Linked DNA regions of Homo sapiens. The protein of the gene in region 1 interacts with the protein of each later gene in a biochemical or structural test. Each region holds a gene or a part of one and is shown in the gene's direction. Other genes may lie near its edges. The genes, in order: GIT1, TGFB1I1, PPFIA1 and LRIF1.

What was found.
Region 2: the proteins of GIT1 (region 1) and TGFB1I1 form a complex in vitro, tested with the Homo sapiens proteins (one study listed by BioGRID).
Region 3: the proteins of GIT1 (region 1) and PPFIA1 form a complex in vitro, tested with the Homo sapiens proteins (2 studies listed by BioGRID).
Region 4: the proteins of GIT1 (region 1) and LRIF1 form a complex in vitro, tested with the Homo sapiens proteins (one study listed by BioGRID).

The regions. Positions count from the first base shown.
Region 1 is NC_000017.11:29,586,627-29,593,591, reverse strand, and holds the start of GIT1 (ARF GTPase-activating protein GIT1), read left to right. Parts: upstream 1-3,943; 5' UTR 3,944-4,213; coding exon 4,214-4,265; intron 4,266-6,965. Other genes in the region: ANKRD13B (ankyrin repeat domain-containing protein 13B), read right to left, coding at 1-396. UniProt on the Homo sapiens protein: GTPase-activating protein for ADP ribosylation factor family members, including ARF1.
Region 2 is NC_000016.10:31,467,530-31,475,160, forward strand, and holds the start of TGFB1I1 (transforming growth factor beta-1-induced transcript 1 protein), read left to right. Parts: upstream 1-4,622; 5' UTR 4,623-4,659; coding exon 4,660-4,672; intron 4,673-4,678; exon of another isoform or gene 4,679-4,694; intron 4,695-4,873; exon of another isoform or gene 4,874-4,920; intron 4,921-5,675; exon of another isoform or gene 5,676-5,721; intron 5,722-5,911; coding exon 5,912-6,027; intron 6,028-6,152; coding exon 6,153-6,205; intron 6,206-6,305; coding exon 6,306-6,448; intron 6,449-6,622; coding exon 6,623-6,710; intron 6,711-6,820; coding exon 6,821-6,926; intron 6,927-7,033; coding exon 7,034-7,228; intron 7,229-7,631. UniProt on the Homo sapiens protein: Functions as a molecular adapter coordinating multiple protein-protein interactions at the focal adhesion complex and in the nucleus. Links various intracellular signaling modules to plasma membrane receptors and regulates the Wnt and TGFB signaling pathways.
Region 3 is NC_000011.10:70,378,680-70,384,908, forward strand, and holds the end of PPFIA1 (liprin-alpha-1), read left to right. Parts: intron 1-3,408; coding exon 3,409-3,467; 3' UTR 3,468-3,479; intron 3,480-4,323; coding exon of another isoform or gene 4,324-4,349; 3' UTR 4,350-5,717; downstream 5,718-6,229. UniProt on the Homo sapiens protein: May regulate the disassembly of focal adhesions. May localize receptor-like tyrosine phosphatases type 2A at specific sites on the plasma membrane, possibly regulating their interaction with the extracellular environment and their association with substrates.
Region 4 is NC_000001.11:110,960,923-110,968,749, reverse strand, and holds the start of LRIF1 (ligand-dependent nuclear receptor-interacting factor 1), read left to right. Parts: upstream 1-4,827; 5' UTR 4,828-5,061; coding exon 5,062-5,129; intron 5,130-7,827. UniProt on the Homo sapiens protein: Together with SMCHD1, involved in chromosome X inactivation in females by promoting the compaction of heterochromatin.

The DNA.
Region 1 (6,965 bases):
CCGGCCGGGGAGGAGGGACGGCGCCGGAGCCGGGGCCCGGGGCCGCGGGGCGGGGGGCCGGCGCTGCCTGCTCGCGGGGCTGCGGCTCGGGCATGTGCGAGCGGCGGCGGGCGGGGGCGGCGCGCCCGGCGCGGTGCGGGCGGCGCGGGCGACGGGCGTCCTCGCGAGGCGGCGGCGGCGGGCGGCGCGGAGAGGCCCCCACCCGCCCTGGGAGGGAGCGGGCACTCGGCGGCGCTGCGCGGACTCGCGCTCGCCTCCCACACCCCCGCACACAAAGACGCCGCTCGGCGGAGGGAGCAGGCGCCCGCAGCGGGCGCGGGGGCGCACGGGACGCGGGCCCCGGGGACGCCGCCGCAGGGACGCGCGCCCGCAGCCCCCGGGTCCCCACAGCTGCATAGCCCGGCCCTCAGCCCGAGCGGCCGGCGCGGGATACGGGGATGTGGGGATGATGGGGAGAGAGGAAGGGGACCAGGCGCCCCGGGTAGAGCTTGTCAGCTCAGCCCCGCGGCATCATGGGGTTTGTAGTCCGCCTCGTGAAACTGGGGGTGGCAGGTGGCCGAAGAGGGTCTGCACTGTCCCCGGATCTCGTGGGAGAGTGGGCGGGGAGTCAGGCCTGGCCCAGACGCGGGCGGGGCCCTGACGCCAGGTGGGCTGGGACGCACCTCCCCCGCTGGCATTTTGCCTTTTGCTGGGGAAGTGGGGGGGCACGGGCCTAGGTCGAGCGTTTGGGAGACGGGGTGGAGGTGTGGTCTTCAGAATTGAGCTTGGGTCCCAGGGGCCATGAAGAAGGATCCGGATTCCCAGAAGAGAGCGTCTGATTGGGAACTCCTGAGAAAGGTGTGGGGCATCAGTACCAAGGGTCATTGGAGCAGCCAGGGGTCTGGCCCCTGGAACATTTCTGAGGAGTCTTCCCTGCCCTGTTAGAAAATTAAACTCCATCTTCCACACATGTCATTGGAAACAGAATGTCCAGTAACGCGGGAAAGATGGTCCCTTTCCCCCCGCACACTGTCCCCAGCAAGAACCAGAGTGAGGTTGGACAGAAAAAGCAGCAGGTGGCAGCTCCGTTCCTCCACCCAGCTGGCCCTTCAGGAAGGGAAGTGACTGATTCCAGAGACTGTCTCCTTCCTGAATGACCCCAGGGTGAAGAGGTACTTCCAGAATGGTCCCTGCAGAGGGTGTGGTAAAAGTTGAATTGGCCTCTCAAGCGCCAATTGCAAGGCCTGGAAGGACCAAGAGGCTTGGACCAGTCCCTGGAGGGAGGGGACTGTGATGTCAGAGAGACCAGAGTTCGAATAGCTCCAACTGCCTGACCTTAAAAGAGCAAACTGCTTAATTTTTCCGACTTTCTCGGTCCACTCCCCTTCAAAATGAGAATCTAGATACTACCTCCTGGGGTGAGCTAAGGATAATGACTGCCCTGGAAACAGCGCCTCCCTCCCCCAACCAGGCGGGCCGAGACAGGTGGCGGGACCAGGCACGGTGCCTTCTTGAGCCCACCTCAGAACAAGGCAGGAATAAGGGATTCCACACCGGCCCTACTTAAAACAACAATCCAAGAAGTGTTTGTGTGGGAGGTGCCAGCAAAAGCTTGCAAACTCTCTCAGGTTTCTTTGTGTGGTCTTCCCTCCTTCCTCCTCCACACCCTGTGGTGCCAGGCCCCAGCGGGAAGAGATGAGGGAGGAGCGGGCTGCCTCGCCCCTTTCTCCCGCCTGGGAGGAGCCAGCTGGCGTCTCCGGGGGCCCGGGACCGCTGCCCGCCTGCACCACCAGGGGTCAGCAGAGTGTCGTGGCTGCAGCCAGTGCAGGGGAGGGGGCTGGCGCGGTTGAGGGGCATCTAGGAGTGGCCGGGAGCATGCCTGTGCATTTCCTTATTAAATTGTTTTTCGAACCTTGTGTGTGATTCCACTGTAGCAGTCCTGCTTCCTGGGGTGGTGACATCTCCACGGGGGAATCCAGAAACCCTTTTATCTCCAGTCCCAGGCCCAGAAGTTTGGCTGTGACGGGGCTGGGGGAAACAAAGTTTGGACGATGTGTCCGCGCCAGGGCCACTCCCAGGTAGTCTCTGAGCCAACCAGGAGATGGGGAGTGGGGTGGAGGGGTAAGCAGAGTGAATCATCCTTCTTCCCCAGCAAAGCCCAGGAGTCCGAGGACAGGGGGAGTTCAGGATGGATTGTGGGGAGTTGTCGATTGTGGGGAACTGTCCCCTGGGCGGCCGTGTTCTTTTTTTGCCAGGCGGCGGTAGACACTGAACCCAGGTCGCTTGCGCTTCGGCCCGCGCTCTCAGCTGCCACGTGCTCGAGACGCGCCCACACAGCGGAGAAACAAAGACAGCCAAGCGGCAGGGCTGCCAGCAGCCTCCTCGACATTTAATAAATGAAATTCCATAGCTGGGGGTCGATCGGGGGTGAACGGGCGGCCACCGCTCGTGGACTGAGCGCCTGGCACGGGCTGCCTGGCCACTCCTCCCGTCTCACTCCCCCCGCCCCTTACCCCCTTCCCGCTGAGGCCACCAAGCCCATGGACTCTGGTGAGAGAGCAGCTCGGGGCGGCAGGTGGTGCTCCCCCCTACACACCAGCTAGGTATCGTTGCTTGCAAAAGCCCCACCAGCTGAGCGGCTGGCTGTCGAGGGAGGGGAGGCCTGCAAGATTTTTTTAAGGTGCAATTATAAATAAAGCCCATGGATCGCGATTTCAAACAAACTTGTCAATCTGGGCCGCAGCAAAAGGCGATGGAGGCAGCTTTGCATGTATTTCGGGTGGTGTGACTCATGAGCATTACTTGTCTCCCCTAGGGAAGGAGCCTGCCCACCCACAAATCACTGCCGCTCTGGCACCGTTGGGATAATCGACCAACTTGAGCACCCCTGCCAAAGGACTGCCCCCATCTTAACAAGCAGGAGTCTCTGACTCTTGGAGAACCCCTCCTCAATTGTCACCACTGACCTGGCCCCCAGGTCTGGCCCTGGGGACCTCTACCCTCTCCCCACAAGCAGAGTGCCCGGGCCTTTTGCTGCTGCAGGGATTGGGGGTTGGGTACACGCGCGGCACACGCGTATGGGGGCGCATGCTCAGTGCGGGGGCTGCGCTCATGTGCGGCCTCTACCTAGGCTCCCTGCCCCCCAGCCCACCCACGTCCCTCACCTGCCTTGCCTTTGCCTGCCTCGTCGTGTGAAGTCCAGGAAGAAAGGCCGTCACCTGAAACGGCCCCTCTATGTTATATGCACCCTTTCTGGACACACACACCTCTGGTGGCCCAGAAACACCGTGGGTGTGTGTAAGGCGGATGACAAGTGGATGTGAGTGCACACAGGCACAGTGGTCACTCCTCGGGAGGTCTTTAAAAACCGCCCAGATTCTCTCCTCTCTGGATGGAAGGATGCATGGAGAGATAGATATATTTTTAGTCCGGAGGCAGGGGAATACACTGCCTGACCTTTCTGGCACCTGGGCGTCCATATTGTTAGCAGTGGGCGTATTCAGCAAGAGTGTGACACATACACACACACCCCTGGACACACAGATGTGGACACCTACGGGACAGGGACGCACACCTCACCCCAACCAGAGATAGACGGGTACCCCAAGGCACAGCCCCTTTGACCTGGAGCGGGACTTGGGCCTCCAAGTCCTTCTTCCCTAATCCCCACCCTCGCCGTCCGTGGGCCCAGCGTCCCCCGGTCCACCCCACGCGGAAAGTGAAGGGGAGGGGGCTGTGAGGGTGACTCACATTGCCTCCGGGCCAGGCGAGCGCTGCAGCGGAGGCCAGGGCCGCAGGCCACGCTGCCCGCCGGGGCCGGGCATCTGCCGCGGCCCCTTTAAGCGCCCCCGCCCCCTCCTGCCCGCGCCCGGGCTTCCTTTCTCTAGGGGGCGCGGCCGGCAGCGCGCGGCGGGGCGGGGGTGCGGCCCCTCCCCCTGTGGGCAGGGCCTGCGCCGCTTCCTGCAGAAGCGGCCGGGAGCCGCGCAGGGGGCGGAGAGAGGAGCCGCGAGCGGCGGCGGGGCGGCGCGGGGCGGAGGGCGCCCGAGGGCGAGCGGGCAGGCGGGCACGGCGGGTTCCGGGCCAGCCCCGGGGCGGACGGTTGGCCGGGCGCGCGGAGCCTCGCCGGGGCCTCGCCGGAGCCGGGCCGGGCAGCAGGGGCCGCCGCCGCCGCCCGGGCCCGCCGCCCGCGCCCCCCACGCTGGCCCAGAGGGCTGCGGCCGCGTCGCCGCTGAGGATGTCCCGAAAGGGGCCGCGAGCGGAGGTGTGTGCGGACTGCAGCGCCCCGGGTAAGCGCGGCGGGGCCGGGGGCGGGACCGCACAGCCAGGCCGCCGCCGGGCGGGCGCCGGGGCCTGGCAAGAGCGCTGTGCGGGGCCGGAGGGCTGGGCGGGGCGGGGGGCTGCGGCCTCCAGGCTGGGCCCCCGCCTCGGCCACTGCGGAGCTGCGCCCTTGGCGGGAGGGCCGGCCTGGGGTGCCCATGCTCCCTGGAGGCCGTGGACTAGCGAGGAAGGACGTTCCCGGCGCCGCCTCCCGCTCCTCGGTCTGAGGGAGGCGGGCAGCTGGCTGCTCCTCCACCTCCATCTCTGTATCCGACGGAAGCGCCAGCCTGGGGTGGCAGGAGGGCCGTGGCGGAGGCCGTCAGGGCTTGGGAGGTGGGGGCGAGTGTGGTTTTATGTCATCTCAGTGCCACCCCCGCGTCTTGCACCTGCTGCTCGCGTGGTCGGTACGCCTGCCGGGGTGGTGGAGGGCAAGGAGCAGAGGGCCGGGCAGATGCGCCAGTGGGGCCTGAATACCGTCTCCTCAGGAGCAGATGAGCGGTGGCTACTCCCAGGACTCCCTGCCTCGGGTTCCTAAGGCTAGCGCTCCTTGCCGGGCCTGGCGTTCAGGGCCAGTCTAGACCCGGGTGTCTTCTCGGGAGGCATCCCCAGGCCTGCTGGTGGTGACTGGGAACAGCTCGGCTGGACCCTGCTGTTCCTGTTCACCGGTAAGGCCTGCTTGGGAAAGTGAGCTTGGCATCAAGCTATCCTGGGTGCGGGCCCCTCCCTGTCCCCTAGCCCAGTCTGGCCAGAAATGGGTGGGAGGCCGTGCCGAGATTCCCCGTATCCTGCTGGCTTCCTGGCCTGTCTCCTGGCTGTATTTACATGGTGGTTCCCTTCCTTTTCCTAACAGAGTTAGGACTGGGCTGGAGTGAAACCCCCCAGGCCTGCTGAGGAAGTCAGGGGTAATGATCCAAGAGGCTGCTCCCTTCTGATGAGGGAGGACAGCCAGTGACGGGGCTCTGCAGCTGGCCTGGGAAGGAAGCTCTAGCCCACATCCATTCTTTCTTTAGCAAAGGAGCTATCTCCCTGGTAGGCCCCTGGGCAGGCTGCGGAGGTCCGTGAACTCTAGCGGGGCTGTGGGCATGATTAAGAGTGAGAGTATGGGGTGCTGGTTTGTGGGCCCATAACTTTCAGCCACCCCTTGAGCAGGCCCAGGACCCCACCGGTTGAGCCTCACAGATGCTCTGGTGGTTCTGGGGGTGCCAAGCTAGAGTATTTGGGAACTATGACTTAGCAGGGCTTGGGCACAAAATACTCCATAGGTGGTTATGACCAAGGCCTCCTAGGGGCTTATCATGGTTTAGAGGGCCCTGGGGTTGAGGGTCCATACCCCTAAGAAACTGTGACTCCGTTCCCCGAGCTGCAGGCAGGTCTGGGGATGGCAGGGCTGAGGATGCACCTTGCCTTATAAATGTCTCCCCACTGTTCCACAACTCCGTGGGGTAAGCATGGCATGGAATGTGGAGGAGAGTCTTAGCAGGCGCCCAATCGGGGGAGTCTGGGGCTTAGTGTTGCCTTTGTTCCCAGCTTACTCTGTAATCCCAACAAGACTTTCCTCACTGTGGGGTCCTCAGCTTCCTCAATTCAGAGGCAAAGAAGTTGGAGTAGAAATGGTTTTTGGGGGGCTGCCATCTCCGAATCTGTGGTCTGATTCTGGGGTGGAGGGGTGAAGGGCAGCACCAGCAAGGCAGTTGTCCTTTGTATGTTGCGTTGAATGTCCGACCACAGCCTCTGGATGCCCAGTGGGCTCAGGGAGGAATGGTGGGCATCAGATGTGTTGGATTGCCCAGCTCCTCCTCCCAGGTCCTCATCTGTCAGAGGAATTTGTGCCCCAGATGCCTCCTTTCCCCTGATTCACAATAGAGGTCAGGAAGGTGGTGAGAAGGTGAGGATGGTGGGGTGGGGAGGATGTGGACAGTCTTACTCATCAGCCCACCTAGCACCCAGCGAGGTGTCCAGCACATGGCAGGCACTCCCTGAGTGTTTGGCTGCTTGTTAGGACCCTGGCTGGCTGCTTGGGACTATCCCACACCTGGACCCTAGGATGCTGGCCCTGGCATGCAGCGGCATGTTTGGTCTGGGTCCTGTGGCATCTCAGGCAGAGAGGCATGAGGGTACCCAGCAGTCCGGAGTCCAGATCCAGTGCCAGCCCCATGGTGTATCGCTCCACCCCAGGGTCACAGGCTTCTTTTATTATGATAGGAGCCCTGCAGTCCTAACCACAGGAGTGGGGCCAGGGACTTTTTGTGCTTGGTTAATTTGGGGGGTCATGGAGGTCAGAGGTGAGATGCAGCCTGTCCCCAGAGAGCCCCATCCTCCCTCTGCTCCCGGGCATGGGCACACAGGACAAGTGTGAGTGTGTTGCTAGGCAGCTGGACATGACATGGCTGCTCTGGCAGCTTGTGCCACCTCGTCAGGCACCGTATGTGTTCCTGCCTGCCTGGGGAGTCCAAGAGAGGAAGGGGGCAGGGAGCCCTGGAGAATGTGCATCTTCCCCTTTCCTTAGGCTTGGCCCACCTCGCCACACGATCTCAGTCAAGGGCCTCTCCTCACCCCATGGGCTTCTATCTCAGCCTTTTCCACTTTGGCAACCCTGGGGGTGAGAGTGAAGGCCTCAAGATGCCTGTCCTGTAGGTATCTCTGGTGAGCAAGGCCGGGGACATGTTACG
Region 2 (7,631 bases), on another chromosome or scaffold:
CACGTGTCCTACTGCTGTCTGTCTGAGGGAAGACCTGCTGTGGAGGGAATCTCTGAGCCCTGTCTTAGTCATGCCCAGAGACAGACAAAGACCTGTGCTGGCGTTGAGGGGAGGGAAGGGCTCACATTGCTTTGGTCTCCAAGGCAGGGTCTCCATCATCTGGCTTCCAGATCTTTTTTTTTTTTTTTTTTTTTGACTATTATTTTGCTTTAGATTCAGGGGGCACGTGCATGTTTGTTACACGGGTGTATTGTGTACTGGGGAGGATTGGGTTTCTAGTGAACCCATTACCCAAAGAGTGAACACTATACCCACTAGGCAATTTTCCAGCCTTTGCCCCGCACCTACCCGCCCCCCTTTTGGAGTCCCCAGTGTCTGTTTCTATCTTCATGCCCCTGTGTACCCATTGCTTAGTTCCCACTTATAACGGAGAACATGCAGTATTTGGTTTTCTGTGTCTGAGTTAGTTTACTTAGGATAATGGCCTCCAGCTCCATTCATGTTCCTGCAAAGGACGTTATTTCATTTTTTAAGGCTGTGTACTATTCCATGGTGTATATGTACCACATTTTCCTTTTTTTTTTTTAAGAGACAGGGTCTTGCTATGTTGCCCAGGCTGGTCTCAAAATCCTAAGTTCAAGCAGTTCTCCTGCCTCAGACTCCTAAAATGCTGGGATTTATAGGCACGAGCCACTGTGCCAGCCAACATTTTCTTTATTCAGTCACCCATTGATGGATACTTAGGTTGGGTCCATGACTTTGCTATTGTGAATAGTACTGCAATAAACACAATGAGTCCAGCTGTCTTTTACATGATTTCTTTTCCTGTGGGTAGATGCTCGTTAGTGGGATTTCTGAGTCAAATGATAGTTCTAGTTGTAGGTCTTTGAGAAATCTCTATGCTGTTTTCCAGAGAGGTTGAGCTAATTTACATTCCCACCAACAGTGTATAAGTATTCCTCTTTCTCCACATTCATGCCAACATCTGTTGCTCTTTTACTGTTTAATAATTGGCTTGCAGATTTTTGACTCCTCAGTGGCAGCCTGATTTTGGGGAGAGCTGCACTGGGCCTGCCAAGGTTTGCTTCTGGGCAGCTGAGGTTGGCACTTGCTGTCTCTGAGCCTCTGTGAGTGTTGGTCCAGGTCTCTGGTTTTCAGGCTATGCATTAGAACCAAGCAGTGAGCTTTGAAAAACTATTGATGCCTGGGGTCTTTTTGCTCACATTGGACTGGGCATCGGTATTTTATTTTATTTTATTTTATTTTTTGGAATCTTGTTCTGTCACCCAGGCTGGAGTGTGGTGGTACAATATTGACTCATTGCAGCCTCCGCCTCTCTGGTTCAAGCAATTCTCATGCCTCAGCCTCCCAAGTAGCTGGGATTACAGGTGCCACCATGCCCGGCTAACTTTTTTTGTATTTTTAGTAGAAATGGGGTTTCACCATGTTGGCCAGCCTGGTCTCGAACTCCTGACCTCAGGTGATCTGTCTGCCTTGGCCTCCCAAAGTGCTGGGATTACAGGCGTGAGCCACCGCGCCCAGTCAGGCCCTATCTTCAAATATAGTCACACTGAGGGTTGAACTGTGATGTATAAATGTGGGGGAGACACAAACATTCAGTCCATAACACTCCCTTTCCCCCAACCCTAGGCAATCACTAATCTACATCGTATCTCTACAGATGACCTATTCTGGACATGTCATATAAATGGAATCATACAATGTGTGATCTTTCATATCTGGCCTCTTTCATATAGCTTAATGTTATCAAGGTTCATCCACACTGTAGCATCTCATTTCTTTTTATTAGGAATAATACAGTTTCACTTTATGGATTGCTGTGGTTTGAACATGTACCCCAGAGTTCATGTGTTGGAAACTTAACCCCCAATTCAACTGTTGAGAGGTGGGAACTTTAAGAAGTGATTAGGTTATGTGGGCTCTTCCCTCATGAATGGATTAATGGCATTATTGCATGAGTAGGTTAGTTATCAAGGGAGTGGACAGCTGATAGATAAATGGATGGGTTCTGCCCCCACCCCACCCCCTCTCTTGCACTGTCTTGCCCTTCTGCTTTCTGCTGTGGGATGAGGCAGAAAGAAGGCCCTCACCAGATGCAGGGCCCTTGACCTTCGACTTCCCAACCTCTAGAACTGAAAGAAAGATATTTCTATTCTTTATAAATTATCCAGCCTTAGGCATTCTACGATGCAGCACAAAACAGACTAAGACATGGATATGCCACTTTCATTTCTTCAATCATCAGTTGACGGACATTTGGGTTGTTTCCACTCGGGCTATTATGAATAATGCTGCTATGAATACTCATGTACAAGTTTTTTTGTGGAATATGCTTTTATTTCTCTTGGTTACATATCTAGAAGGGAAATTGCTGGATCATATAACTCTATGTTTAAACATGTGAGGAACTGCCAGACCATTTTCCAAAGTTAGTGAACGATTTTACATTCCAACCAGCCATGTGTGAGGGTTCCAATCTCTCCATATCCTCACAAAAACTTGCTAATTACCTCTTTCTTTTCAGCTTTTTTTTTTTTTTTTTTTGAGTCGGAATCTCACTCTGTCACCAGGCTGGAGTGCAGTGGCACAATCTCTGCTCACTGCAACCTCTGCCTCCCGAGTTCAAGTGATTCTCCTGCCTCAGCCTCCCGAGTAGCTGGGATTACAGGTGCCTGCCACCACACCCAGCTAATTTTTGTATTTTTAGTAGAGACGGGGTTTTGCCAAGTTAACCAGGCTGGTCTCCAACTCCAGACCTCAGGTGATCCGCCCGCCTCGGCCTCCCAGAGTGTTGGGATTACAGGCGTGAACCACTGAGCCTGGCCTTTAAAATATTATCATTATTATTTGAGATGGAGTCTCGCTCTGTTGCTCAGGCTGGAGTGCAGTGGCACGATCTCAGCTCACTGCAGCCTCCACCTGCCAGGTTCAAGGGATTCTTCCGCCTCAGCCTCCCAAGTAGCTGGGACTACAGGTGCCCACCACCATGTCTGGCTAATTTTTTTGTGTGTTTTTAGTAGAGACTGTTTTCACCATGTTAGCCAGGCTGGTCTCGAACTCCTGACCTCAGGGGATCCACCCACCTCGGCCTTCCAAAGTGTTAGGATTACAGGTGTGAGCCACTGCTCCTTGCCTAATTACCTGTCTTTTTTGTTATTGCCATCCTAATAGGTATGATGTGGCATCTCATTGTAGTTTTGATTTGCATTTCTCTGGGGACTAATGATGTTGAGGATCTTTTCATGTAATCATTGGCTATTTATATAACTTCTTTGAACTGTCTATTCAGGTCGTTTGCCCATTTTTTCTTCTTTTTCTTTTTTATTCTTGACACAGGGTCTCCTCTGTTGCTCAGGAGTTCAGTGGCACAATCTCAGCTCACTGCAGCCTCTGCCTCCAGGTTTCAAGCAATTCTCCTGTCTCAGCCTCCCAAGTAGCTGGAATTACAGGCTCCCACCACCACGCACAGCTAATTTTGTGTTTTTAGTAGAGATGGGGTTTTGTCATGTTGGCCAGGCTGGTCTCGAACTCCTGACCTCAAGTGACCTGCCCGCCTTGACCTCCCAAAGTGCTAGGATTATAGGTGTGAGCCACCATGCCTGTCTCGCATTTTTAAAAAGCTCCCCAGGTTGTTCCGATTTGCTGCTGGGTTGATACTCACATTCCAGTGCTCAGATCTGTCCAGAAGAGTGGCTGCAGCACAGTTGTCTGTCCATAACTACCTCTATGGCCTCTCGTTTCCACCTCGTTTCTCAGGGTCTCAGTCCAGGGAAGGCCTTGCCACTTTGTGGCTGGAGACTGTGTCTTGCTTTCTGCTCTGAGTTCATCAGTAACTTGGGAAAGGGCTGTTTCAGAGCAGGCCTGGGCCACCTCAGTGCTGAGGAAGGGCTTTGTCTTGCAGGCTGGCTGGGGGTTGGTTGCCTGGGAGTGTTTTCCCCGAATTTGCAAGGGGCTTGCGCCCGGGTTCGAGTTTACGTGTGTCCATGACCAAGTCTTGGAGGGAAGGTCCTAGTGTAGAGTCTGTGGGTGGGTTCACTGTGTCTGTCCCCGTCCCTCAGATTTCTTTGTGTCTGGTATGTATGCCTCTTGGGGCCTCTATTTATCTGTCAGGGTCTCCGATGGGAGGGTCTCCGAACCTGAGGTCTAATTGAGCCTTAGAATATCACTCCTGCTACCAATCCAAAAATTCCGTCTGGGACAAGTCTCCCAGGAATGGCATGGGTGGGAGGGAGGCTCTTGTCTAGGACTCAGGCGCTAGCTTTGAGCGGTGTCTGTTTGGGGGCCTCAGTCCGTGTCTGTAAGTCTCCCTAGGGAGCGGCTCTGGGGCTTGGTCTGGAGAAGCCACTTCTCTCTGGCTCTGGCCTCCTGGGGCTCCCTGCAGCTGAGGCCAAGGCTGGGGTGTGGCCGCCTCCGCGGCAGGCCGGCGGGCTGGGCTCGGGTGGGCCGGGGCGCTCCCTCCTTTCCACGCCCCCACCTCGGGTTCCCCCGTTCATCGCCCCCCCATCCCCATCTCAGCGGGTCCCGGCTTCCTTACATGGTCACGGCCGGGCTTCCAGCTCCCGGACGTCCCCCGCCCCCCGCCCCCACCGGACACGGCCCCCGCCCTGTTCGCCCCGCGCCACCGGCCCGCGCCCCGCCATGGAGGACCTGGGTGAGTGGGGCCGGATCCCCGGGTCCGTGGCCCCTCACCGCTGCCCAGAGCTGCCTCCCCGCCGTCGCTCTCCCGCATCTCCCCATCCCTGTCTTCTTACTTCTGCTTTTCGCCTCTGCCCGCGCCTCCTTTCCAACTCCACGTCCCCCTTCCTGCCTCTCCCTTCCTGCCTTTCCTGGGCCGGCCGCTCCCTCCCTTCTTCCCTCGCTGTGCTCCTCCATCCCAGGCTGCGGCAGATGGAACGGGAGGTGCGGCGCCCGCGGGCGCCCGGGCGCGGGGCTCTGGGGAGGGAGGGGTTAAAGGGGCCTCGGCCCGGGGACCGGGAAAGTAGAGGGCACGGGAAAGTCTGGCATCAAGTTTTGGAGAAAAAAAGCGGGCCTGCCTGCACCAGAGTTTTGGGAGAGGAGGAGTTAAGGGCTCCTGAGCACAGTGAGGGTCAGGTCCTTGAGGCAAGGAAGAGAATAGTAACTCAGGAGTGCCTAGGCGCCCGCGAAGGCTTCAGGGTTTCACGCGGGTGCTCAGAGACGAAGACTGAGGGCAGGACTTCTGGGTTCTGGAAGTGAAAGGGCTCAAAAGACCCGGATCTGGGGATGCAGGGATGGAGAGAGGTGTCTTGTCCGGAAGGGGGACCCAGGTATCTCGTCCTCCCTGCGAAGCCTGGGGCTGGAAGGCTGTGCGCTCCACGGGAGAGAGGGGCTTCCGGCCCCTGGCGGTAGAGGGCGCTGCTCGGTAGGGGTAACTGACGCTGTACCGCAGATAAACAGCCAATCAGAAGGCAGGTCCCAGCGAAGCGCCAGTGAGGAGCCCAGGGCGGGACTCAGGGGCCTGGGAGTGGCCAGGCTGGGCGGGGCCTGTGTAGGTAGAGGGAGGAGTTAACCAGCATGGAAGAGAGAGCGTCCAATCAGAAAGCTGAGGGCCAGGCACTGGGCCAATGGAGCAATTTGGAGGGGAGCCAAATTTGGCTTGGGTGAAGAGCCCATTTTGACTGCATCAGAGAAGATGGGGAGAATAAAATAATCAGGAGGCTGGGTTTGTGCTTGGCTCCAAGCGTGAGCAACTGGGATATTCTGGTCATAAATATTCCTTGCTACCCTTCGAGCAGTGCTCTGCCTGGCTCTGGCCCTGTGACCTCTTCTCTTAATACTGGCTTCTGTCCTTCTCCAGTACTGCCCACTGGGAACCTTATCTTCTGATCTAACCGTGACCCTTGTCTCTCTCCCTGATGGCCTCTTCCTGCAGATGCCCTGCTCTCTGACCTGGAGACTACCACCTCGCACATGCCAAGGTCAGGGGCTCCCAAAGAGCGCCCTGCGGAGCCTCTCACCCCTCCCCCATCCTATGGCCACCAGCCACAGGTGAGATCGGATGTTGGGGACTGGGGCAGCCACTAGGGCCAGGCTCGGCCTGGTCTATGGGGATCTCAGCCTCAGTGGGGCAGAGTGCAGGCCTGTCATCCCACCTGTGCGTCTCCGCTCTGTAGACAGGGTCTGGGGAGTCTTCAGGAGCCTCGGGGGACAAGGACCACCTGTACAGGTGAGGGGCCTGGAAACCAGGGCATGGGGGCCAACTGAGTCTCAGGTGAGGAGGCTTGGATTCCCCACCCCTGAACCCAGGCTCCCACTCTGCTTCCCAGCACGGTATGCAAGCCTCGGTCCCCAAAGCCTGCAGCCCCGGCGGCCCCTCCATTCTCCTCTTCCAGCGGTGTCTTGGGTACCGGGCTCTGTGAGCTAGATCGGTTGCTTCAGGAACTTAATGCCACTCAGTTCAACATCACAGGTACCAGGGTGACTGAGAGAGGCCTTGATGCGATAGGGGCAGGGGAGGGAAGGGTGGGGCAGAGACTAAGAGGAATACACTTCCCAGAGTAGCAGTTAAAGGGACCTAAAGCCTCAAGTGTGAGGGTGCGTTGAGCATGGCCCTATATGTAGCGTCCTCCTCTCCTCTCTCCAGATGAAATCATGTCTCAGTTCCCATCTAGCAAGGTGGCTTCAGGAGAGCAGAAGGAGGACCAGTCTGAAGATAAGAAAAGACCCAGCCTGTGAGTTTGGCGTCGTTGTCAGGGCTGAGAGATGAGTCCTGGATATCTGAGTCACTAGAGGGAGCGTTGCTCTGGGAGGCTCTGAGATGACACAAGCATGTTCTTCACAGCCCTTCCAGCCCGTCTCCTGGCCTCCCAAAGGCTTCTGCCACCTCAGCCACTCTGGAGCTGGATAGACTGATGGCCTCACTCTCTGACTTCCGCGTTCAAAACCATGTGAGTTGGGCAGTGGGCCAGTGTCCATTTGTGGCTCCCCAACCCCTTCTAGACAATTCCACATCTGCTGCTTTGCTGACTCAATTCTCATGTCCTCCCCGCTGCAGCTTCCAGCCTCTGGGCCAACTCAGCCACCGGTGGTGAGCTCCACAAATGAGGGCTCCCCATCCCCACCAGAGCCGACTGGCAAGGGCAGCCTAGACACCATGCTGGGGCTGCTGCAGTCCGACCTCAGCCGCCGGGGTGTTCCCACCCAGGCCAAAGGCCTCTGTGGCTCCTGCAATAAACCTATTGCTGGGCAAGTAAGTGGAGCCTTGTGAGAAGGGAGGCAGAGACCTGTCACAGACCCATCTTTAGTGAGAGCTGGGCTTTATGCTGTTCCCTTTTAGTAAGTTAATCTGGGAAGTGGGTATCATTATTACTTATGTTTTATGGATGAGGAAACTGAAGCTCTGAACCACACAGCAGGTTAGTGGTAGGGTGAAAATTCCAACCATGTTACCATTTATTGTGGTCCTACTGTGTGCCAGGCACTGTGCCAGCTCCTTTACAAACCCTCATCTCATCTGATCTTCACAAAACACTCTGTGGCTCCACCCAATATCTCTCAGGCATCTACAAAGGCTCTCTCTTCCTCCGTCAGAGTCTGGACTGGGTTCACTGGTCCTTGTTTTATTGACTGAGCAGATGTGATTGACAACAGCT
Region 3 (6,229 bases), on another chromosome or scaffold:
GTGCAGTCACATGTCTACCCATTAGAGGGCAGGGAAGGGAGGAAGGTGAACCTCCAAGAAGTCCCCAGTGGAGCGAGGCAGCTATTGACTATACCAGCCAGAGAGAGAGCATCACTGCCATGATTTCACATGCAGTTTGGGATTTTCCCTTAGACGGCCACTTTGATTTGAGGTTAACAGTTGACCATGGCTTCCTTACAGGTCTCTCAACTCTGCCCTTGTACTCATCTAATGAAAGGCAGTGCACAGGTTGAAGAGCCAGGCTGCCTAGGTTTGACTCCAGCTCTGCCACTAGGAGGTGCATGACCCTGAACAAGTCATTTAACTACCCTGGCCTCGGTCTCCCCATCTGTAAAATGGTCGTCATGGTAGTGTCTTCCTCATAGAGTAGTTGCGATGATTGAATGCCTCATTCATTAAGCTGGTGAAGTTCTGAGCCCGTGTCAGTCGGGGCTGTTTGGCAGCCCCTGTGCTACACACAGGTCACTCATGCTCACTTCTGAGGCCAGTGAGCAGACTGGAGGAAAGGAAGTGGCATTAAAAACTGTGCTAATCCTTGAGGCCAGGAGTTTGAGACCAGCCTGACCAACATGGCGAAACCCCGTCTCTACAAAAAAAAAATACAAAAATTAGCCAGGTGTGGTGGCACATGCTTGTAATCCCAGCTACTTGGGAGGCTAAGGCACAAGAATCATTTGGACCTGGGAGGCAGAGGGTGCAGTGAGCCGAGATTGTGCCGCTGCACTCTAGCCTTGATGACAGACTGAGACTCTGTCTCAAAAAAAAAAAAAATTTTTTTTTAAGTGCTAATTAGGGGCCAAGCATGGTGGCTTATACCAGTAATCCTAGCACTTTGATAGGCTGAGAGGCAGGAGAATCACTTGAGCTGAAGTTTGAGACTAGCCTGGGCAACACAGTGAGACCCCATCTCTAAAAAAAAAAAAATAATAATTGAAAACTGTGCGAATGGGGTTTTTGCCAATTTTTTTTGTCATCAGTCCCTCCCGTACGTAGGTTCATAAATTTTGTTCTCTATCACCTGTATAAAAATAAAAAGAAAAGTACATTTAAATAAAACCTTAGTTAAGCTGGACGCTTTGGGTGAGAATAGCTTACTTTGTGGCATTTTTAGTAAAAAGCTGTATTATTTATTTATTGTTTGCCAGAATTTGATAATATACTCAAGGGGGAAAACCCAGTATATCTTTTAACTAGGAACTTTTTACAAATTAGCATTTTTCTTCCAAGAGTCATGCATATAATTCTTAGAAAGCAGAACTGTGACTTGGCCTTCAGCTCAAGCTCTGTCACCTGGAGTCCACGAGTGCTTTCTTGTTTTACTTGTGGCTTCAATTTCAGTTTTCCTTCTGATAAATCACATCTCCCTTGTTAAATGTTAACAGGAATATTAAGAATGAGAGTTTGGATGGATGAAAAGTAAACCTAGGCCGGGCGCGGTGGCTCACGCCTGTAATCCCAGCACTTTGGGAGGCTGAGGTGGGTGGATCAGCTGAGGTCAGGAGTTCGAGACCAGCCTGGCCAACGTGGTGAGACCAGCCTGGCCAACGTGGTGAAACCCTGTCTCTAGTAAAAATACAAAAAAATCGGCCGGGCTCGGTGGCTCACGCCTGTAATCCCAGCACTTTGGGAGGCCAAGGCGGGAGGATCACGAGGTCAGGAGATCAAGACCATCCTGGCTAACACGGTGAAACTCCATCTCTACTAAAAATACAAAAAAAAAAAAAAAATTAGCTGGGCACGGTGGCAGGCGCCTGTAGTACCAGCTACTCGGGAGGCTGGGGCAGGAGAATGGCATGAACCCAGGAGGCGGAGCTTGTGGTGAGCCAAGATCACACCACTGCACTCCAGCCTGGGCGACAGAGCAGGACTGTCTCAAAAGAAAAAATTTGCCAGGCATGGTGACACATGCCAATAATCCCAGCTACTTAGGAGGCTGAGGCAGGAGAATGGCTTGAACCTGGGAGGCAGAGGTTGCAGTGAGCCGAAATCATGCCACTGTACTCCAGCCTGGGCGACAAGAGCAAAACTCTGTCTCAAAAAAAAAAAAAAAGTAAACCTAAAAGGTATAGGGAATTTATTATAAAGAAGACTTTTTACCCTTACATTAAATAACTCAGGCACAAGCCTGCTAAAGGGATTATTATTATTATTGAGACAGGGTCTCACTCTGTTGCCCAGGTTGGAGTGCAGTGGCTCAGTCTCGGCTTACTGCAACCTCAGCCTCCCAAGTAGCTGGGACCACAGGTGTGGTCCCATGCCTTGCTAATTTTTTGAATTTTTTGTAGAGATGGGCTCTCACCATGTTGCCCAGGCTGGTCTTAACTCTTGGGCTCAAGCAATCCTCCTGCCTTGACCTCCCAAATTGCTGGAATTACAGACGCGAGCCACCGTGCCCAGCAAAGTTGACTATTTTAATGGCTTTTTAATTAAGGGAATGTGGGGTAAACTCCAGCAGGTCTCCCAGGTTCTTAAGAGTCAGAGGGTTTGTGAAGATCATCTGTCCTCACCAACAGTCCCAACTGTCTTAATGTCTTTGCTGGAACCATGCAGGATGTTGATTAAGTGTTCCTGGTATACCTGTGGGAAAACAAAAAACATAACCGGGAGCAGCCAGTACCTGCTTCCGATTTGCAAAAACTTAAAATCCCAGTTGTTAATGGAAATCGGGCTTACTTATGGCCACACTGTGTTTCTTGAACAAGAACCAAAATCTGTGGTCTCTATGATTAATATTTCTGGTAGGAACTGAGACTGGGCTTCAGTTTTTAGATCAGCTTTCACCCCACTCCCTGGCCAACGCCCCACCCCTGCAGCCAGATCTCTGCACCTGCTCTGCTCCTCCCCAGGAGAAAAGGGCACCGGCTTCCCAGACACCCAGCTAGTGCTGGGTAGCAAGGTTCTCTCCCTCCTCTTAGACTGGTCTTGTACCCGACGTCGTTGGCCTCTGCGCTCAGTGGGGCTGGGCAGCATCAGCAGTGCCGCTTGGTGTTTCCTTCATACCAGTGTTAGAGATGGAGCACTTAGGGCAGGGAGAAAGCCCCATTGGTCTATGAATGCAGAGTTTAGTAAGAGATAAAGGGATCACTCTAAGTAGGGGTCATTTATGCAGATGTACATTTTGAAATTGTTACTGTACCATTTGGTGCTTGGTATTTCGGAGTAGTGTTCCAGAGTCTCCCGGGGCTCTTTGGGAGCTGGGGAGAGCCACCACTGGGTGACACTTGGATCTCTCTGGCTCCATCCCGCCCACTCAGGCAGCTCCCCTCAGGTCCCTCCGTAGGCACTGCTGTAGGTGTGAAGATGTGTGTCTACTTGTGCCCTCATGTGATGTTCTAAGACTAACTGCACGCTGTGTTTGCACGCTTCCTCTCGTGGCTGTTGAAACAGGCAATGTATCAGGAACACAGAGGTTGGATTCTGCTACAGTCAGGACTTACTCCTGCTAAAGTCTCCTGTTGGTGAGTAGAGAGCACCACAACCCCTAGAGATGGCTCAGAGGCACAGCAGGAGTCATCGGAGCTGCAGTGCCAGACTAGGGGTGTGGACCATGAAAGCCAGTGCAGTTTTTGGGGAATTTAAAATATATATAGACACAAGCTCTCCGTACCCATTAAGATCATTTTGTTGTTACAATTGATCATAAAGAGGTTAGTGTGTCCTCTTTTTTTAAGGAAAAAAATGTATTTTCACCTTTTCCTTAAACCTGAAAATGCTGACTCATTTTAATTGTCTGTGGATGTCATGGGGGTGGAGTGGGGAGGAGAGCAGAGCATGGCAGAGAGCGTCAGGGGAGAGTCTCTCCTCCTGACGTCGTTATGCACATTGCTGTGATTCCTAAGCTTGCTTTGTTTTAAATACACATTCTTGAATGAAACAAGCCCAAAGTTTTGTGGTTAATTATATATTATACTAAGTGTGACACTAATAGCCTTTCAGTTTGGAGAGACTGGTTCTTAAAACTGCGGACTCTGGCTGGTGAGTGGCCCGCCCTCTCCTTGCTGTTCTAAGCAATTTTAAGGTCTCCGTTGGAATATTTGACTGGTTTGTTCATCTTTTATTTGTAATTGGTAACATGGAGACGTAAGCCAAAATGAAGTCAGCCAAGGAGCTGTCTCATTGATGTGCATAGCCCTTGATGTTCTAGCCAGTGATTCTCAGAGCAGCTACGGCACAGAAAGTGAGGGGTCCTGGAGGGGAGGGGTCAGTGTCGGGGGGACGTTTGGGCCCCAGCATCAGAAGTTCCCGTTCGTCAGTATGGCCCGGCCTGTACTGAGTGGTTTTTTGTTTGTGTTTATTTTCCAGTTTACCCACACTACTTCTACAGATGATTATGCAGCATTTGAATCCAACAAAGACTACATTTTGGAATCCAGTGGAATCTTTAATCTTGTTAATACTTGTTATATGGACCCTAAGATATTTTATTACAGAGTTTTTAATTAGTGAAAAATTCATGAATACCATAGAGAAAATATTTTAGAATTTAATGTTTCTTATATTTATGTAAACTTATGACTCTTCATTTATATAGTTACTTACTTTTTCATGTATATCCAGGCTATAAATATCCTTTCAAATCATGTTCTTATACCTAATTTTAGTCTTTCAAATGAATGTACTGTAATGCTTGTATGTATAAATCCTATGAATAGAGGGCTTTTGTAAATTATGCATTTATTGTAATTATCATTAATTTTTTAATGATAAACCATGACAAAGGATTTTACGTTTATAAAATTATGACAGAAGCCATGTGCATTATCCTTTACGGACGCAGCCTAGCTCTACAGCAATCATCCTGAAATAAGCATACCTAATTTCAAGCAATTGTTGTATTTTCATGACTGACCTTAACTGTACTTTTTCTAGCAAGAGATGCTTTATTCTGCAGCATGAACAGATTTAAAATGGCTGGTGTTAAATATCAGCTCCTAATAAGATGTGGACTGAAAACACTATCACAACACTATGAGAAGCCCCTAGCACTGGTTAACGCTTTCCTAGCCTAGTCTCTGGATTTGGGGAGCTTGTCTTCAGTGGCTGAGACTGTGAGCTGGGAGCAGTTCTCTCAGCTGGAGAGACTCGGGATGGGGTAACCTGGGGACCAGTCTAGCCCCTGCACCCTCTTCCCTGCCTCTGCTCCTTGGGAGCGGGTGGAGAGACACCCATGTGGCTCCCCTTAGGGCCAGCACCAAGCACCACGCTCTCATCCTGCAAGTCGGCGCACACAGTGGATGAAGGCAGGAGACCCAGAAAGCAGTGCAGTGCAGCTCTAATAAAGGCCTTATTTTTCTTATGTAAATCATCTTTTTACATTTGTTTGTAAACATGTTTAAAGAACGAACCTAGTGGGACATTTTTAGACTTTGATGCTCTAGCCATTTTGGATTGTGTAAGTTGCAGATGTGGCTTTTACTTTTTAAATGGCATATTAACAAGCCAGCAAAGTGTGTCAGACCATGGCGTGGTATTTATTGTGCAGCAGATCCAGAGACAGAGGCAGCCTGTCTTTTCAGTTGGTTTCTGCTTTTAATTTACTTGTACAATTCATTGTTACTGTTCTGTTTTTCTATTAATCTTTTGTCAACTTCCTGATTATGTAACAAAGTATGTACAGTCTACTTTTGAACTATTTTTATCACAGTATTATTTATTGCTTTCTTTCAATAAAGTACTGAAGCATTTTCCACTGCCAATGAAGAATACTGAGAATAAGCTCTAACTGTTTTGGAAGGCAGTGTCACCATATGGAAATTGTATTACAGAAGTCAATTGACAGAATAAAGCAGCCAGGAGATGAAGTGCAGGTTCAGGGCGTCATCCTGCCCGCTGCTCTGGAGGTCCCGAGCCTGCATCACTGCAGGAGACAGGTGCCTGGTGTTAAATTGTTAAATGCAAATGTGGGGGCTCACATACACAGTCGGTGGGTAGGGCCCAAAGGCAGAGCCTAGGCCGTGGACCGCGCGCATGCACGCATGTCCCTTAACACCGTTTCCCAGCTCTGCTTCCTTCCTCGGTGCTGGCTTCACACTCCCACCTGCTCTCCCTGCCTGCTCACAAAGGTGGCTCCCAGGCCTGCACCCTTCCACACTGATGGCCTCTGGAAATCAGGAAGCCTGGTTCCCTAATAGCTCACATCCGGTCCTGAGTTGTGAAGCAGCCCAGGGTGGCAGAGGGGAGGCGACACGCTGACAGGCTGGGGGAGTCA
Region 4 (7,827 bases), on another chromosome or scaffold:
ACTTTTCTTGAGCCTCTGCTCATGGGTCCCTCATTTTCCCTTTAAAACACCCAATCACCTCTGCACAAATAAAAGTGGAACTCAGTTGTTTCTCTTACTATCAGTAGTTACTGAATAAAATCTGTTTCAATGTTTTAACTAATGTCCAGTTGGGTTTATCTTTGGCAACCCTCATGACAAGGAACTGAGGGCAGCAGCCTTTGGCCAACAACCAGCAAGAAACACAGGCCCTCAATCCAGCTGCTGCAAAGAACTGAATCCCTCCAACAACAAAAGAGCTTGAAATTGGCTTTTTCTCTAGTTGAGCCTTCAGATGAGACAGTAGCCCTGATCAACACCTTGATTGCAGCCCTGTAAATGACTCTATAGCAGAGGACCTGACTAAGCTGTGCCTAGACTCCTAACTGACATTTGTTATTTTTAGCTGCTAAATTTATGGTTATTTGTTATGCAGAAATATATGGTTATTTGGTATGCAGAAAATAATACATTTTTCCTCCCTGAGGGCTTTATTTTTTTTTCTTTTTGATATTCTAGTTTTAATTTCTTAAGGCATGTTTTTTTTTTCTTATTTCTCTCACTTGATACCTTAGGACATGCTTTAACTGACATCTTTCTATTTTCTTTAATTCTGGAAAAATAGTTTTTAGATTTAAAAAATATTTGTTTTAATTTCTGTCCTTCTGCAATCCTATTTTCCAGATATTGAAACTTCTACTTTTCTATTAGACAAATTTTAACTTTTATTTTTATATTTGCTCTCTTTTTATCCTTTCCTACTGCCCTCCAACATTTTCTTTACTCTCTTCTATCAGTCTCCTAATTCTTTATTCAGCTGCATGCATTCAACTATTTATCTCATCTAGTGTGTTTATTTTAGTTCATATTTGGCTTCACTCTCATCCCCCAAATATGTTCATTTTTTTCTGATTTTCACTGATATACTGTAGTATATCTGTGGGAGATATGTTTCAATACTCCCAGTGAATGCTTAAAACCATGAATAGTACCAGACTGGATACGGGCTACATTTTTTTTTCTTATACATACATACCTATAATAAAGTTTAATTTATAAGTTAAGCATAGTAAGAGATTAATCACAACTAATAATAAAAATAGAACAACATGCTAGCATCACTACTCCTGTACTTTGGGCCATTTTTAAGTAAATAAGGGTTACTTGAACATAAACATTGTGATACCATGACAGTGGATCTGAAAACCAAGATGGCGCCTAAGTGACTAACAGGTGGGGATATGCTAGAGAAAGGGATGATTCACACCCTGGTGGGGCAAAAAAGGACAGCTCAAGATTTCATCATGCTACCCAGAATGGCACACAATTTCATACTTGTGAATTGGTAATTTCTGCAATTTTCCATGTAATATTTTTGAACCATGGTTGACCATGGGTAACTGAAACTACAGAAGGTAAAACTGAATAAGCAGGGTCTACTGTAGTTTTCTATTACTTTAATTTTCCATGTAACTTGATTGTACATTTAACATTTTTGATCTGTTTTTGTAATGCTAATTTAGTAACAGTCATTTCATTTCTAAATATGTCTTTAAACTAGTCTTTATTAACTGAATTGCAAGGTGATGCGTGCCTGTAGTCCCAGCTACTCAGGAGGCTGAGGCAGGAGAATCACTTGAACCTGAAAGGCGGAGGTTGCAGTGAACCAAGATCGTGCCACTGCACTCCAGCCTGGGCAACAGAGCGAGACTCTGTCTCAACAACAACAACAACAAAAAGATATTTAAGCCTCAGTCTGCATTTCCCAATGAATTTAGAAGAAAAGTGTATGTCCTAAGGAATTCAAAGAAGCACTGCTGATCATACCAATTAGCTTCCACTCCAAAAGGCAATTTCCATGGTAAGAGTTATATTTAAATTGTAGTGCAAGACCACACTGATAAAAGTCAAGTTACCTATTTATAATATACCAGCCAGGGTGGTTTTGCGGAAAGGATGGAGTAGTGACTTCCCAACACTGGCAGGTAATCCTGCATCTGTTTTCATCAGTGCCTTACCTTAGCATGGGTTTTTCCTGCCTTGACTTTATCCTGTCCATACCAGGGGCTTGGCTATTGCTACAGGTTTATTTTCAAAGGACAATTAATGATCATATCTGTTACAAGAGAAAAATTCAAATAGTTGCCTCCACCCTCTGCTTCTCGTGGTGGCCCTTGGCTTTAGCCTGTAACACTCTATACACTCACATACCAGTTCTGAAAATGTCCTACAGATCGAAATTTTCACAGCTGCTTTTTGTGTGTGTGTGTGTGTGTGTGTGTGTGTGTGTGTGTGTGTGGTGGTTGTTGCTGTTAATTCCTAAAAATCTAAACTTCCTTTTTTTTTTTTTATTTCTCCAGGTGTCAGCCGTCTGTACTAGTTCAACATCTTGATTAGAATCAAGGATTTTGGCTGGGCACAGTAGCTCATGCCTGTAATCCCAGCACGTTTGGAGGCCAAGGCAGACAGATCATTTGCGGTCAGGAGTTAGACACCAGCCTAGCCAACATGGTGAAACCCTGTCTCTATTAAAAATACAAAAAATGAGCCAGGCGTGGTAGTGCGCACCTGTAATCCCAGCTACTCGGGAGACTGAGGCACGAGAATCGCTTGAATCCAGGAGATGGAGATTGCAGTGAGCTGAAATCACGCCACTGTACTCCAGTCTGGGGTGACAGAGTGAGACCCTGTCTAAAAAAGAAAAAGAAAAAAAGAAAAGAAAAAAGAAAAAGAAAAAAAGGAAAAGAATCAAGGATTTTGATCCTTATCATAAGAGCAATGGGGAAACTGATTTTTTTTTTTAATGCAGTGAGATGACACCATCAGATTTGTGTTTCCATATGGTATCTCTGGCTGCAGCATTTACAGGAATACAAGAGTGGATATGAGGCTCACGCCTGTAATCCCATCACTTTGGGAGGCTGAGGCGGGGAGATCAGGAGGTCAGGAGATCGAGTCCATCCTGGCTAACACAGTGAAACCCCATCTCTAATTAAAATACAAAAAATTAGCTGGGTGTGGTGGCGGGCGCCTGTAGTCCCAGCTACTCAGGAGGCTGAGGCAGGAGAATGGCGTGAACCCAGGAGGCGGAGCTTGCAGTGAGCTGAGATTGCCCACTGCACTCCAGCCTGGGTGACAGAGTGAGACTCCCTCTAAAAAAATAAATAAATAAAAAAGGAGTGGATATGAGGGTATCCGTTAAAGCTTTACTAGACCAAGTAAGCTTGCTCTACAGTAGTAGTAATAGAAATATAAAGCAGACTTGTAAGATATTTAGAAGATAAAATCTGCAAAAGTTGGTGAATTGTATATTTTGGAATAAAAAAAGGAAAGTGTTAAGGATGACACTGGGATTTAGGCAACTTTAATGGAAGGAAGTTATTTCTTTCTTTCTTTCTGAGATAGCACTGATAAAAGAAAACGTGTAGTGGGGGGAAGAGAAGCAAGTCATAAGTGTGGTTTTGAACATGTTTCATTTGAAGGGGCTTTTAAAATAGCAAAAAGGATATCTCAACAATTCACTTGAACATCCAGGTATAGATCTCAGAGAAATCAGAACTGGGAACATAAATTTATGAGTCACACGGCAGCATAATGCAGTAGTACATGGTGTGTTTAGCCAGACAACCTGGATTTGGAGCCTGGCTCCATCACTCACAAGCTCTATGACCTCTAAAAATTTGTTCACCCTCTCTGAGCATCAGTTACTTCATCTGCATATAATAATTATTTTATTAGCTGTTAGGAGTAAATTAATTTTGTAAAACACTTAAATCAGTGCCAAGGACATACATGTGTTTGGTGGTAAAATAATGGGTGGAGGTGGTAATTCAATCCAGGAGCATGAATAAAACCACGAATCGAGACAAGACAGTTTGAAAACATAAGAGAATCAGTGATCAAGCTGAAAGGAACTCCCTTGAAAAGGGAGATATCTTCAAAAGAGATTGAGAAGGTGTAGACAAAAAGGTAGGAGCAAAACCAGGAAAGTATATTGCCAATGGCGTCAAGATGAGGGACTAATTAATAGTGCTGCGAGGAAAAATTCTCAAATAGTGTGAGATAAAGAGCATCAACTGCAATGGACAGCTGAATAAATGATTTAATGAATACAATGGATGTTCTGATGCAACTCCCAGATCTCCCTTCAGAAATAAAGGTCTATATGACAATAAGTGATAGTTTCGATGAACGTAGGCTGGAGGAAAGAGTTAAGTAAGTCTAGAGGCAAAGCTTCAGGAAAGAGGAGTAAATGGGAAACCTTCAGAGAAGCAGCAACAATAATCGCTGGCCACAGGCAGGCGTTTTAAGTTTTCTCAGGCCAGAAGTGCATGACTCCAAAAAAGCGCGCCGATGTCTTTTAATGCACTGACGGGAGAGAAAAACGTACGCTAGCGGCGAGCACAGAAGCAGAAAATTTATGATTGACCCCGGAAACATTTTATTTTGCGTAGGTGTCGGGAGAGCTTTCTTTTGCGATTTGTTCCTTGATCCGGAAGAAAAGATAGCAAATATCACTTGCCATTGGATTGCATCATAAGGGTTGGGCTTTAGCGAGCCAGTCACCTTGGCAACCGGACGTGACGACCCCGGAAGACGCCCGACCGAGCTTTGCTCCAGCTATCGGCTTCAGTGGGCGGGGCGGCAGAGCCAGACTGACGCAGTCTTCAGCACTGACCAGGCTCTGTTGGGGGTGGTGCCACCAAGGCCACGCCCCCTGCGCCTGCTCCGGCGGAGTCTGGAGAGTTGTCGTAGGCTCTGAGGGCGGAGACTCACGCCGATTCTCTCTCAGCGTAGGGCTGTGAGGGCGCAGTCCACCGCCAGGAGCCTTCCGGTTTCTGCGCGGTGCGCGACCTCGTCCCGAAGCCTGGGGATACACCCTCTCGAGAGCCCGCTGTCGCCCTCCGTTAAGGTCGAACCCCTCACAGTTGCTGTGGGCAACTCCAGCCCAACATTCCCTCGCTCTGGTTCTCGCCCCATTGGGAAACTCGGCCCCACGCTTCCCACTTTTCTGGATGAGGTGTCCCCTTTCTCCCCACTAAAATGTCAAATAACCTACGGAGGGTCTTCCTGAAACCCGCAGAGGAAAATTCAGGCAACGCCTCGCGTTGGTAAGTACCGGTTTCGAATCCTCCCCACGGCTGCCCCTCTGTCCGTCTTAGGGATGTGGAGTCGGCCGTCGTTTCCGGACGCTGTGTAGTTGAGAGGAGTTGGAGCCCGCAGAGTGCGCCACCCAGGCGGGAAGCGCTTGTCTCCGCGGCGCTTAAAGCCCATAGAGCGCTTTCCTCTGGGAAATGTAAAACCTCTTTAGAGCCTGACACAGCGGCTCCGCGGGACCCCAGCGTCTCAAGTTTAATAGGCGGACCGAGTAGATCTCCACGGGAGATGAAAACCAAGATGGCCGACGCTCTTATGTGACTCAAACCTTCTGGAAGATTCTCACGCACACGCAGAAACGCAGCAGTCAGCACGGATTAGCAAGTGCAGCCCTGGTGGCGCTGGACCTTCAGTGAAAATAGATTTTAATAGTGAGACAGAAAGGGTGTGTGATTGAAGAAAAAGGGCTTTAGAATGAGGAGATCGAATATTTAAAATTTCAAGTAATAGTTTTATGTGAAGAGAGAGAAGTAAGACTGGAGAAATCCTCGTGTAAAGTCAGTCCTTTTGAACAGCCTTTTTGAAGTAGGGTGTAATGAAGTGCCATTTCATTGGCTATTTATATTTGGCATGAGGAGAGTCCAGTATTTCTAAGGAAGATATTCTTGTAAAGTTAGAAAATAGATGATCAGTAACTTAGTTTTTGGGTTTTTTTTTTTAAATTGTATTACAAGGAAATGAATTGGAAACAATGTTAGCTAAAGCAGAATATTTTCACTTGTACTCTCACATGGTTAGTAGATTAAGTGATGAGGAAAAAATAGGGTCTGCAGACTCTAATAAGAAAATGAAGAACTAAGATGCAAAACTCATGGAAGAGGATTTTCGTTTGAAGAAAATCAAGCTACCTGGGGTTAATCTCAACTTTGCTAGTTAGCATTTGTGAGGCCAGGTACCTGTTTCCAGTCTGTAAATAATAGCACTTAGAAATATTTTAAAGATTAGGAGAATGAAATAATGTAAAATACGTCGTGTAGGAAAATAGTAAAGCACAATTTAAATGTTAACTATTACTATTATAAGCATACAACTTTAATTCTGTACAGATTTTAGCCCAGCAGGTAGTTTTCTTTAATTGCAAGTAGAAAACTCCATTGCAATAAAGACCGTAAGTAATGGTGAGTCCTTAAAAGCAATATTATAAAAGGAAATGGTCACTAATAGTAATGAGCCAAAATTCTGTTGAACTGTCAAGATAGAACCATTGTATTTCAAATCATAAAAAGAGCCATTTTTTGGTGTACTTGTGTGTTTTTTTCTTTTTTCTTTTTTTTAATTTTGTGGTGGAAGTTTGGGGGAAGGGGCAGAGAGTGCCCTGTGTACATATGAGAAAGTAGAATTACTTTTTAAATGATTAATTTCTGCAGCCTTATTTTAGTACCTGAATACTTACTGACTTCTGACTTAGCTTAATTTATAGAAAATTTGTTTTAGGATTGCATTTTTAAATACAAAAAGTAAGATAAACAACTTTACTTTGTGTGTGTGTGTGTGTGTGTGTGTGTGTGTGTGTACCCTTAACTCTGTTATCCAGTTTCTAATCCTTTTGGGGATTTGGAGATTTTTAAATTACAAATTACATTCATAAGTCATTTTGAGTTCATTAACTCATTGATTTATGCATTGTTTTTATTATTTTTGAATGTATTTATTTAAATCATTGAGGTTTTACATCATATATTTGGGACATTTACCAGATGACTTTCTGAAGCTTCGACATTTACTTTGGTTAATGGTTGCGTATTTGATTCCATTCTGTTCTGTAAGTAATAAAACATCCAAATATAATTTTGTAAATAATATTAACGGCCCTTGTAGTTTATTGGAAACTTAGTTTTCTTATTTTTCTGGTAACATGTTTGATGGTACTAAATCATTTATTTTTATAACTTAAATGACTATGATTTTCTTATTGTTTGTAGCTTAAATATTTCCTGTTACTGCTTATTTAAAATTTTTCAGTAGCATAATACAGAATTGTATATTGTTGTATATTGTTTGAAGTATCTCTTAATTCATCAGAACATCACATGTAAAACCCAAATTTAATCTTAGAGTACAAAGGAAAAATCTGGAAGATATTTGTGATGGTATGCATTTAATTTATATTGATTTGGGTTTTATTGTCGAAGAATAAAGCAGGAGTCAGAACGCTATAGTGGAAAGAACCTTTTAAGTCATAGAGACTTGGGTTCATATCCTAGCTTACCACTTACTATCAATACAGTTTAAACATTTGATGAAAAAACATTCATTTAGTGCCTACTATCTATGTGATAGACTGTGCTAAATGGGAAGACTGATTAATAATAGGATATGGGCTGTTGCCAGGGAAAACCTTACAGTCATGGTGGAGGAGGAGGAAAGTAGAGTTGATGTAGTAAAGGAAGAGAGTAGAGAAAGGGAGTTGGAAGAAAGATTCCAAGAACAGCTGAGTTGGGAAACATAAGTATCAGCTATCCAGTTAAAGATAAAAGCAGGATATGCTTATGCAGAGAACTGGTAAATAAAGGACGTGTATGGTTTATGATTGATACTTGTTGCTTGATTCTGTACAAGTAGGATAGATAGATAGCTCTTAAGGGTTCTGTTTGCCCTGCTAAGGAGATTAGACTTCATCTATTGGAAATAGGTCAGAGTATTTTAAGAAAA